Linked DNA regions of Homo sapiens: region 1 is linked to region 2. Evidence: fine-mapped QTL for protein levels in blood plasma. A gene starts in region 2. The other region holds a variant in brackets. All regions are shown on one strand. Distances are from middle to middle. Region 1 has its middle 120 kb from the start of SRGAP2-AS1. Region 2 holds the start of REG4 (regenerating family member 4).

What was found. A credible set is the group of variants that fine-mapping cannot tell apart. PIP is the posterior inclusion probability: the model's chance that the variant is causal. The UK Biobank Pharma Proteomics Project read protein levels with antibody pairs (Olink). The fine-mapping took linkage between variants from a reference panel, not from the people measured, so its PIPs are less certain.
Region 1: its variant is the best candidate, but not a certain one, in a credible set for the plasma level of the REG4 protein (UK Biobank, PIP 0.90).

Annotation. Positions count from the first base shown.
Region 1 is chr1:121,513,452-121,518,841 of GRCh38, forward strand. No RefSeq gene overlaps it. Among named protein-coding and RNA genes, the nearest start is that of SRGAP2-AS1, 120 kb to the left of the region's middle. The variant G/C (reference allele first, on the strand shown) is at 3,024.
Region 2 is chr1:119,808,612-119,814,001 of GRCh38, forward strand. REG4 (regenerating family member 4) reads right to left here and starts at 2,849. Exons shown (of 6, transcript NM_032044.4): 1 at 2,798-2,849; 2 at 92-252. The coding sequence starts at 158.

The DNA of each region.
Region 1 (5,390 bases), 1.7 Mb after region 2:
AGGTCAACTAACAACTTCTACTGAGGCCCCTGGATCAACTCACTGGCCCTTTGTCTGGCCTAGAGAGTTCTCCTCTGGAGGACGCTACCACTGCAGGCCCCCTTCTTCACCCCTATCCAGCAGGAAGTAGCTAAAGTAGTCATCGCCCAATTCCCACAGCAGTTGAGGTGTCCTATTTGGAGGGGGGATTGACAGGTGAAGCCAGCTGGGCTTCTGGGTCAGGTGGGGACTTGGAGAACTTTTCTGTCTAGCTAGAGGATTGTAAACGCACCAAAGCTCTGTGTCTAGCTAGAGGATTGTAAACACACCAGTCAGCATTCTGTAAAAATGAACCAATCAGCACTCTGTAAAATGGACCAATCAGCACTCTGTAAAATGGACCAATCAGCAGGACATGGGTGGGGCCAAATAAGGGAATAAAAGCTGGCCACCAGAGCCAGTAGTGGCAACCTGCTTGGGTCCCCTTCCATGCTGTGGAAGCGTTATTCTTTCATTCTTCATAATAAATCTTGCTGCTGCTCACTCTTTGGGTCTACACTACCTTTATGAGCTGTAACACCATGAGGGTCTGTGGCTTCATTCCTGAAGTCAGTGAGACCATGAACCCACCAGAAGGAACAAACTCCGTATGTGCCACCTTTAAGGGCTGTAACACTCACCACGAGGTCTGCAGCTTCATTCTTGAAGTCAGCGAGACCAAGAGCCCACCAGAAGGAATAAATTCCGGACACAAACTCAGAATACTCTAATACTATAATTGTAGTGTGCAATCCACTTATAAATCAAATATGAAGCCTCAAAAAGCAAATCTATCAAAAACAATCATAGCTACAGAAACTTGTTAAGAGATAGGTAATATAAAGATATGTAAAGTCAATTAAAATTCAAAATGAGAGAGAAATGAAGTTAAAATGTGGAAGTTTTGTTTTTTCTTTGTTTGTTTCTATTCTTTGTGATCTAAGATAAATTGTCATCTCTTTAAAATAACTTGTTATATCTACAAGACGTTTTTTGTAAACCTCATAGTAACCATAATGCAAAAACCTATAATAGATTCACAAAAATTAAAAAGCAGCAAATTAAAACATACTACCACAGAAAATCACTTAACCACAAAAGGAGAGTCAGAAAAGAAGAAAGGAAGAGAGGAGTTTCAAAATACCAGAAAACAAGCAACATAACGGCAGTAGCAATTCCCTACTTATCAATAATAACACTGGATTTACATGGACTTGATTCTCCAATTAAAAGGCATAGGGTGGCTGAATGGATAAAGAAACAATACCTAACTACATGCTGCCTATAAGAAACCCACTTCACCTCTAAACATATAGATAGACTGAAAGTGAAGGGGTGAAAAAAGATATTGCATGCAACTGGAAACTAAAAAAGAGTGGGAGTAACTATACTTATATTAGAGGAAATAGACTACAAATCAAAGATTGTAAAAAGGGATAAAGAAGTTTACTACATAATGATTAAAAGGTCAATTCAGTAAGAAAATGTAACCATTATATACATCTATGAACCAACACTGATAGGTCTATACAAATATAAGTATAAAAAACTGATTAAAGTAATTGAACGAAACATTTAAATAAGGATATTCTATGTCATGGATTGGAAGAATTAATATTGCTAAAATAACAATACTATCCAAAGCAATTTACAGATTTAATGCAATCCTTATTAAAAAACCAATGCCATTCTTCACAGAAATAGGACAAATGCTAAAATTTATATGAAACCACAAAGACCCTGAAGACCCAAAGCAATTTGGAGCAAAAAAAGAAAAAAAAAAAAAAAAGGCTGGAGGCATCACATTACCTGGCTTCAAAATTTACTGCAAAGATATAATAACCAACTATTCACAATAGTAAAGACATGGAATCTATCCAAATGCCCATCAATGGTAGACTGGATAAAGAAAATGTTGTACATATACACCATGGAATACTATGCAGCCATAAAAAGGAACAAGATCATATCCTTTGTAGGGACATAGACGGAGCTGGAAGCTGTTATCCTCAGCAAACTAATGCAGGGACAGAAAACCAAACACCACATATTCTCAGCTGAATGAGCTTAATGATGAGACCGCATGGACACATACTGGGCCTGTTGGGGGTGGGGTGTTGCAGGAAGGAGAGCATCAGGAAGAATAGCTAATGCATGCTGGGCTTAATACCTAGGTGATGGGATGATCTGTGAAGCAAACCACCATGGCACATACTTACCTACGTAAGAAACCTGCATATTCTGCACATGTACCCTGGAACTTAAAACAAAAATTAAACATTAAAAAAAAAGCTATAGTAACCCAATTAGCCTAGAACTGGCAAGAAAACAGACACATAGACCAATGAAACAGAATAGAGAACCCAGAAATAAACCGATGCATTGACAGCCAACTCATCTTCAACAACAGCACCAAGAGCATACAACAGGAAAAGGAGTGTCTGTTTAATAAATGGTGCTGGGAAAACTAGGTAATTACATGTAGAAGGATGAAACCAGACCCCTATATCTCACCATACACAAAAATAAAATTAAAATGGATTAAAGGTTTAAATCTAAGACCTAGAACTATGACTATGAAACAATTAGATGAAAACTTTGGGGAAGTGTTCCAGGACATTAGTCTGAGCAATGATACTTTGTGTAAGACCTCTAAAGCACAGGCAACCAAGAAAGAATAGACAAATGGGATTGAATCAGGCTAAAAAGCTTCTGCACAGCAAAAGAAACAATCAACAATGATTTAAGGTCCTGTATGGGGGATTTGTTAAAGTATAATCAAAATGGAGGCCACAGTATATCCTTAGGTTAACCACTCATAGCCACATGACCAAAATTTAAGCTATCCTGACTTCCCTGAAATGCAATTTCTAACCATTAACAAAAGTTAAGCTTTCCTTTCTTGTTAGTATGATGAAATTGAACCAATTTGTTACAGACAAATAAGCTTATACAGCTCTACTTGCCCAAAAAGGAATATAAGTTTTTAACAGCCAGTCACAATA[G/C]AGGTCAATGCACTTCCTCATTGATGCTTTATAAGCTGCACTGTAACTCTCATGTCAAGTTTCTTACTACTTTTGATTTGAAGTCTTCCGGTTTGTGAACTATTCTTTTGTATGTATGATAACCTGCATATTCCTTTTTTACTTGATCTGACTTTATTTTTACGCGGTCCTCCATGGTGTTTGGGTTTCTCACAGTGTGGCAGTCTCAGGATAATACCGTAGTACTTTTCACCAGGCAGCTGTCTTCTATGAGCAAGGTCTCCAAGAGAAAGGAAGTGGAAGCTCTTGTGGTCTGGAACAGAAAGCCCACACAATCTTTCTCTCTCGCTCTCTCTTTTTTTTTTTGAGACAGAGTTTTGCTCTGTTGCCCTGGCTGGAGTGCAGTGGCGCAATCTTGGCTTACCGCAAGCTCTGCCTCCTGGGTTCAAGCAATTCTCCTGCCTTAGCTTCCCAAGTAGCTGGGATTATAGGCATGTGCCACCACGCCCAGTTAATTTTTTTTTTTTTTTTTTTTTGCATTTTTAGTAGAGATGGGGTTTCACCATATTGGCCAGGCTGGTTTCGAGCTCCTGACCTTGTCATCTGCCTGCCTCAGCCTCCCAAAGTGCTGGAATTACAGGCGCGAGCCACCAGGCCTGGCCAGCCCACACAATATCTCTTCAGCAATATTCAGTAGGTTAGGGGAGTCACAGAGCCCACCCAACTCAAGGGGAGAAAACAAAGGACCCTTATTCCCCCTTTATACACTTCATGATGATGAGAGTATCAAAGTGCTTGTTGCAATATTTATTTCACCAAGGAGGAAAAGGTCAGTTTGGACCAGAAAGGTCAGAAAAAGTTATATAGGGAAGGCAGTTGATAAGCTGGTTTTAAAGGATATGGAGCATTTGAAAAAGTGGAATGTGCATAAGGCTGGAAATATCAAATATCTAAATATAGAACAGGAACAATGATGAAAAGACTTTCAAAATGCTTAGCAAAATGAGAATTATATTTCTTTCTCAACTTTTTTGTTCTAACAGCAAAAGCAACAGTGGGGATCAGCATCAACTTGGGCAAGTAAGTTTTTCTTGTCATAAATAGGCTGATTCAACTGAAAAAAAAATGTTTAAGTAAGTTCAGCTCATTTGAAGACGGGTGAATACTGTGTCTAAGGATTTTATGAGACTAACTGGGAAAAGTCAGTCAGAGTTTAGTTTGAGGTGAGAAGTGCTTAGTGTTGACACTCTACCTAATTATAGGGAAACGTGTGCAGTTAGTCCTGAGACCAGATGCAGGGTAGAAAGAAAGAGGCGTGATGTAGCAGCCATTGATTAGGCAATTTGGGTTTAGCAAGCCCAGTCAATGCCCTCAGAGGGTCAACAGTGTATACAATTTAGTCCTTGAAGGCATCTTTTAAAGTTTCATTCAAAAGATTTTAATCATTGTGACCATAATTTTCTGAGAAGAGGCTTTTCTAAGATTTGTTATTCACAGATAAATAGTTGTCTAATTTGTGTGTGTGTGTGTGTACATGTGTGCATGCGTGCATTCGTGCATGCGTGCCTATCTAGCCTTTTTTGAACACAATGACTGGCACCTGGTAGATAATATGGTTGAATGAATTGTATTATTCATATTCTCTCACTGCCAACTTGAAGAATCTACATCTGTTTCCAAAGTTTTGCGCATATAATACTAAAACAAAAACGGACATGTTTTAGTAATACGTACCAATTACAAATTAACCATTCCTGCCTGGAATAAGCATAGGTTTTGTTAAATAGTTCAATTTTCAAAATTTGTCTCTTATGTTATTTCCAATCCTTTTTTTTTTTTTTAACGCTGATATATTTTGAATTTACGAATGTGAAAGCTGAACTTCAAAAAATAAAGGGAGAGGAAACAAAGCTCGTGAAAAATATTTAAAATATCTTTTAATGCGTTATAACATCCTGGAGAGAAATCAAATCAATGTGTTTCAATGTTACAACATAGATTTCTCCTCCCCTCCCGGATAAAGCACTAATTTATTTAATTTGGTTCAGAGCACTGAATATTCCAAGCTACAGCCTCGTGGGTAAGAGATAGCATTATCTTAAACAGTGTTCGGATTTAACAAAGGTCAACGTCTTGTGCAGTTTACATAGCATCTACTCTCAGTAGCTTTTGCTTCTTGAGCTCTACGTGGCTCCTCAGAAGCTGTTAGGCTTAACAAACAAAAATAAAGTAAAATCAGATACGGTATGGGGCCTTGGGACACTGAAACCTTCATCCGTAGAAAATCAGTTAAGTCTTCACAGGCTAGAAGAGAGGGTGTGTGTGATTAGTAGGCAAAGCAAAGAAAGATCAGTACAAGTTGTCTGGCAGCTGGATAAAACCTTACAC
Region 2 (5,390 bases):
AAATGTTTTTGTGGGCAAATGGATGACTGTCTCACATGGGCTGTGTGAACACTGGCTGTGGCTCAGTTCCAGCTACGTGATGGATACTCACCACCCAGGACTCCTGTTTTGGCCAGGCAGCTCAGCAATAGGAGCAGCCGCATGCTTCTGGAAGCCATCTTCCTCCTACCCTGAGGATGTAGCTAGTGCAAGGATCTCAGAGACCTTACTAGCGCTTCTTTGAAACTCCTGGGTTCTCCTTGATCTGCAAATCTGAACACATTTGCACAGGTGAGAAGGACCCAGGAATCTAGATGCCAACTAATACATATGGAGGAAAATAATACAATATTTTCCTGGCTAAATCCAGACTTTATAATGAAGGGAATCTCAAGTTAGATGTACAGGTTAGAAAATTTTAAGAGATTTTGTTCTTACCTGCAAGACCTCCTGGGCCAGTGCCAGAGATCTAACTATAGCAGGCTGAACAGTTTCATAGTCTGCATGGAGGCAATTTGTAAACCACCGAGCACTCGCCCCTGTTAGCTTCAGGAGGGCCAGCAGAGGGCGCCCAAGGCAAGCTTCCTCACAGGTAAGACGGATATGGGCATTCTGTTGTCAAGAAAATCCAATAGAATGGCTCCGACATTGAATTTTTAAATGTTAAAATTAAACGTGAGCACAGTGTCCAATACCCACATTTTACAGATGAGAAAACCTGAGGTCAGTAAGTATGAAGTCATTTGTTCATGGACACCAGCTATAAGCAGATCTGACTCCATCAGCACTCTTTCCTTTACACTTAGTTGACATCATTTTTAAAAATAAAGAACATGGCTTTATCTTTTCCCCATTAGCAAACAACACATGAGCTATTAGAAAATCAATGCAAAACTAGAAAATAAGAAGTAAATCCCATCTCCAGGAGATAATTTGGTGAGTAGCCTACAGATATCTTTCTATGCACCTCTCTCTGTGTACAATTTTATAAAAATAAGATCATATAGTCCTATAGCCTGGTTTTGTTTCTCAGAAACAGATTAATTGTAATACATTGTCTTGCACTCACATAACTTTCATGCATTTTTTATTTTTTCTTTAGTATAAATTCTCATATATAGGGTTGTGGCATCACACAACATGCACATTGTCATTTTAATACCCTTTGTTAAAATGTATGGGCTGTGATATTTACCTCATTAATAGGGCACTAAAAGGATTGGTTCCCTAAGCTCCCAGAGAATGCTTAATTTTGTCAAGTTTTTGGCTAATTTTGGTATATTAAAGAAGAACCTTAGTGTTTTAAAATATTTTATAATTACTAATGAAGTTGAACATCTTTTTATATAATGATTTGCTTTTAGTATTTGGTGAATTTTCATTTTACAGTTTTGCACATTTTTCTATTTCATTGTTTGTGAGATCTTTTTTGTATGTTTATTTGTGAGATCTTTTTTGTATGTTTATTGCCTTTCACGTGTTACTAATAGTATTTCTCAGTTTGTATTTTTCTCTTACTTATTATAATTTTTGCCATTCTGAAATTTTCAAAAATATTGTTATTTTTTATGTTTTTAAAAATAATTTTTAAATTTATATCAAAAGACTGGCCATTACTGTCACATAAGGTTAAAATATTTATCACTGTTCTATTTTCATCTGTCTGGGCTTTGTTTTAACATAAGTATGAAACTGAGTTCTGGATTTCCCTCCCAAATAATTCTTAAAATGAGTTAATTCATTGAATTCACATTTAATCATACTTTATGATTAAAAAATCTGAATATACAATCTAACTCTCAAATAATGGATTGCTTAAAGAGAATAATGTAAATGATGACTTTTCTGGAAAATCAATTCTGGGGTCCATCTGAACACTTTAAGGCAACATTAACTGAGAATGAGACAAAGCTTGGAGAGTGTGGATGTGACCTTCCCCACCCCTTACTTCTTTTTAAATCATTGCGTGAACCTTGCACTTTGCTAAACTTTCCTTCCAAAAGTAATAGTGTATTTTCAATGTCCTCAAACCCCTTTAAAACGCAAACAGAATTTCTCTGTCAAGGTGACCATCTGGGGGAAGGGAGAGGCAGCATCTTTTTTACTAATCTGTGAATAATTTTTAGTGAACTGATATTCATTGAATGTCTGCATGTCATGTTCATAAGTAAGCTGCACTGGGCCGGGTGTGGTGGCTCATGGCTGAAATCCCAGCACTTTGAGAGGCTGAGGCAGGTGGATCACCTGAGGTCAGGAGTTCAAGACCAGCCTGGCCAACATGGCACAACCCTGTCTCTATTAAAAAATACAAAAATTAGCTGGGCGTGGTGGCAAGTGCCTGTAATCACAGCTACTCAGGAGGCTGAGGCAGGAGAATCACTTGAACCTGGGAGGCAGAAGTTGCAGTGAGCCAAGATTGCACCATTGCTCTCCAGCCTGGGAGACAGAGCAAGACTCCATAAAAAAACAAAAACAAAAACAAAAACAGAAACAAAAACAAAAAACCTGCACTGTAGATCTCATGAATGCATGTTACAAATGAAGACACTGACACTTATGATTGAGTAACTTTTCTAAAGTTTCCCAGCTACCAGACTGCAGAGCCAAGATTTAACCCAACAGCTTGACACCAAAGCCAATGCTCTTTGCAGTGAAGGAAGAAAAGAAGGTAAATAATTTAAATCAAACAACACAGCAACAGAAAGCCTGACAAGCCTCACTAGAAATACAATTTGTCATTTCTGGCCTGGCTAATAGCTGACAGAGGAAAACAGATGTTTAAAGAAAGTCCCCCATCATCAACCGCGAGGAGGATTACCTGTTTGGCAACCAAGACTCTAAGGGCCCCTGCCTTCTTCAGTGTCTCCAGTGGTCCCAGTCAACGTTTCTGGAGCTTTTATATCTTCTTGCCTCAGGAATTAATAATCTTTACTTTAGTCACAAAGCGATAATATTATTTGAGAAAAACAATCCATCCATAAAAGTCTTATCTACAGTGAAAAAAATGAATCATATAAGAGACGGCTTCAGAATGTACGTAAGGTGTGCTTTGACTAGCCAGGAAAAGAACCTCTCCCTGTGTGCAAACAGAATCTTTTCTTCACATCACGTTATTAAAACTGACAACATCCTGTAATCTGTTATAAGCCCATCTTCCTCTCCCCTTATGTTACTTTTTCATGGCTGTCTTTTTATGCCTTGGTATGGTGGATTTCCTTTATTTCTCTTTTATTTCTAGAAGGATTTTCTGTCAGGGTCAGGAATAGGTTATGACCCATGCGGTGAGACTTGAGACCCACACACAGATTTTCCTTCCTAAAGCACCGACTCCACTCCTTCAACATGCGTGAGTTTCCTCAGAGATCTACTATTTGAGCTTCTCCCGCAGAACATGGATGATCATGTCAAAATAGCTTACATCAACAGAGTGTGTTACAATAACGGGTTTTCAGTGAAGTCATCAAATAAGATGCCAACAAAATCCTTGTGAGCAGCATAGGACACATATCCCCATTACACACTCAAGAAACCCAACCTTAAGAGAGATTAGAAACCTTCCGAGGTTCACAACACTGGTCAGCAGTGGACCTGGACACTGAACCTTGTCCTTCTGACTCCAAATATAGGTGTTTGCCAAAATACAGTTCTACTGAAAAATAGGCTATTTGAAAAGAGTAACAAGATTTTCTTTTCCAGTATAGATGGCAAAGGGTTAGGTTGTAGGTGCCAGAGATGACTCAACTTTAAACTACAGATTTAAGTCTGTAAAGGACCTTTATGTCTGGAAACTTTAAGTCTGGAAGGGACCATAGTAGTTATCAAATCTTACTCTTTTGTTCTACTGGTGAGGAAATTGAGGCCTAGAGAAACATTGTGACTAGTTTAATGCACAGACAGTTGTGGGTGAAGCTGATATCAGAAGCCAGCTTCCTTGCTCCCAGCTCACTGTTGTTTGGAAAATGCTACTCAACCTTTGTTATTAGATTTTTGCATCAGTTGTGTAAATTCATGGTAGGACATGAGAAAGTAATGCTTTCATGGTTCACAAAGAACATTTTAAAGAATCTCTCCCATCAGAATGTTTGACACAAACCTCTTTCTCTTTAGGCAGCTGGATGGGAATCATCATTGCTTCATGGCACAATGGCGTACAAAGATGTTAACTCCAAGCCTTTCAATTTCAGAAGTCCTGGTCCAGATGTAAGACAGAAAAGTTTTAACAAAATGGGTGATTAGATAGATCTCCTGTGTTTCCAGCAGCCATCCCAACCCTTAGTCTGCTATCCCCATGCCATTATCCAGATTTAAAGACTTGAGATGAGAGAGAAGAGAGTAGAACAGATTAGAAAACAAGATGTTCATAGGACTTTTAAGAGGTCTCTTACTGAACCCTCACATTGACTAGCTCCAAATTAAGGCATTGATAGGACTCACATAAACCTTTGAGATGTAAGAATGTAAAGGACCAGAAAATTGTCTGAATCAAAAAGGTCCACTGAATAGTAAGTTTATTTAAAAAAAAAAAGTCTACATATAAACACCTCATACATGAAATGGTCAAAGTGAGAATCCTAAAAGCCCCAAATCAGCAATGATCACCTTCAAAGTGACAAGGATGGGGATGGCACCATAATGGAGAGATAAAGTGGAAGCCAGGCAGCTTTCGAATAGTAGCTTTATTTATTTATTTATTATTTTTAATTTCAATAGGTTTTTGGGGAACAGGTGGTGTTTGGTTACATGATAAGTTCTTTAGCGGTGATTTCTGAGATTTTGGGGCACCCATCATCCAAGCGGTGTATACTATACCCAACGTGTAGCCTTTTATCTCCTGCCACCCCCCACCCTTTCGCCCGAGTCCCCAAAGTCCAGTGGATCGTTCTTGTGCCTTTGCATCCTCATAACTCCCACATATGACTGAAAACATCAGTGTTTGGTTTTCCATTCCTGAGTTACTTCACTTAGAATAATAGTCTCCAATTCCATCCAGGTTGCTGTGAATGCCATTATTTCATTCCTTTTTATGGCTCGGTAGTATGGAACACTAGCTTTAAAGTGCAAAGGAAAACAACTTTCAACCTGGAATTCTGTACCCAGCTAACCAACCATTAAGGGTGAGTATGACAAAAAGATATGTTAAAGTTATGAGAACGTAGTAAGATTGCTATCCATAGACTCATTGAAATTACTGCTTAAGCGTGTCCTTTGTCAAAAAATAAAATAATCCCAGAAGATGTGTTACAATAAAGAAATGTGTTGACTGTATTAGTTATAATAATGTTTAAAATAAAATTAATAGTAACTTTATTTCATTTTTAATATAAGTAGGAACAAAAATACCAGACAATAACAAACGAGATTAAAGAGAGTTAGGAATGAAGTTAAAATATTCTAAGATCTGATCATGATTA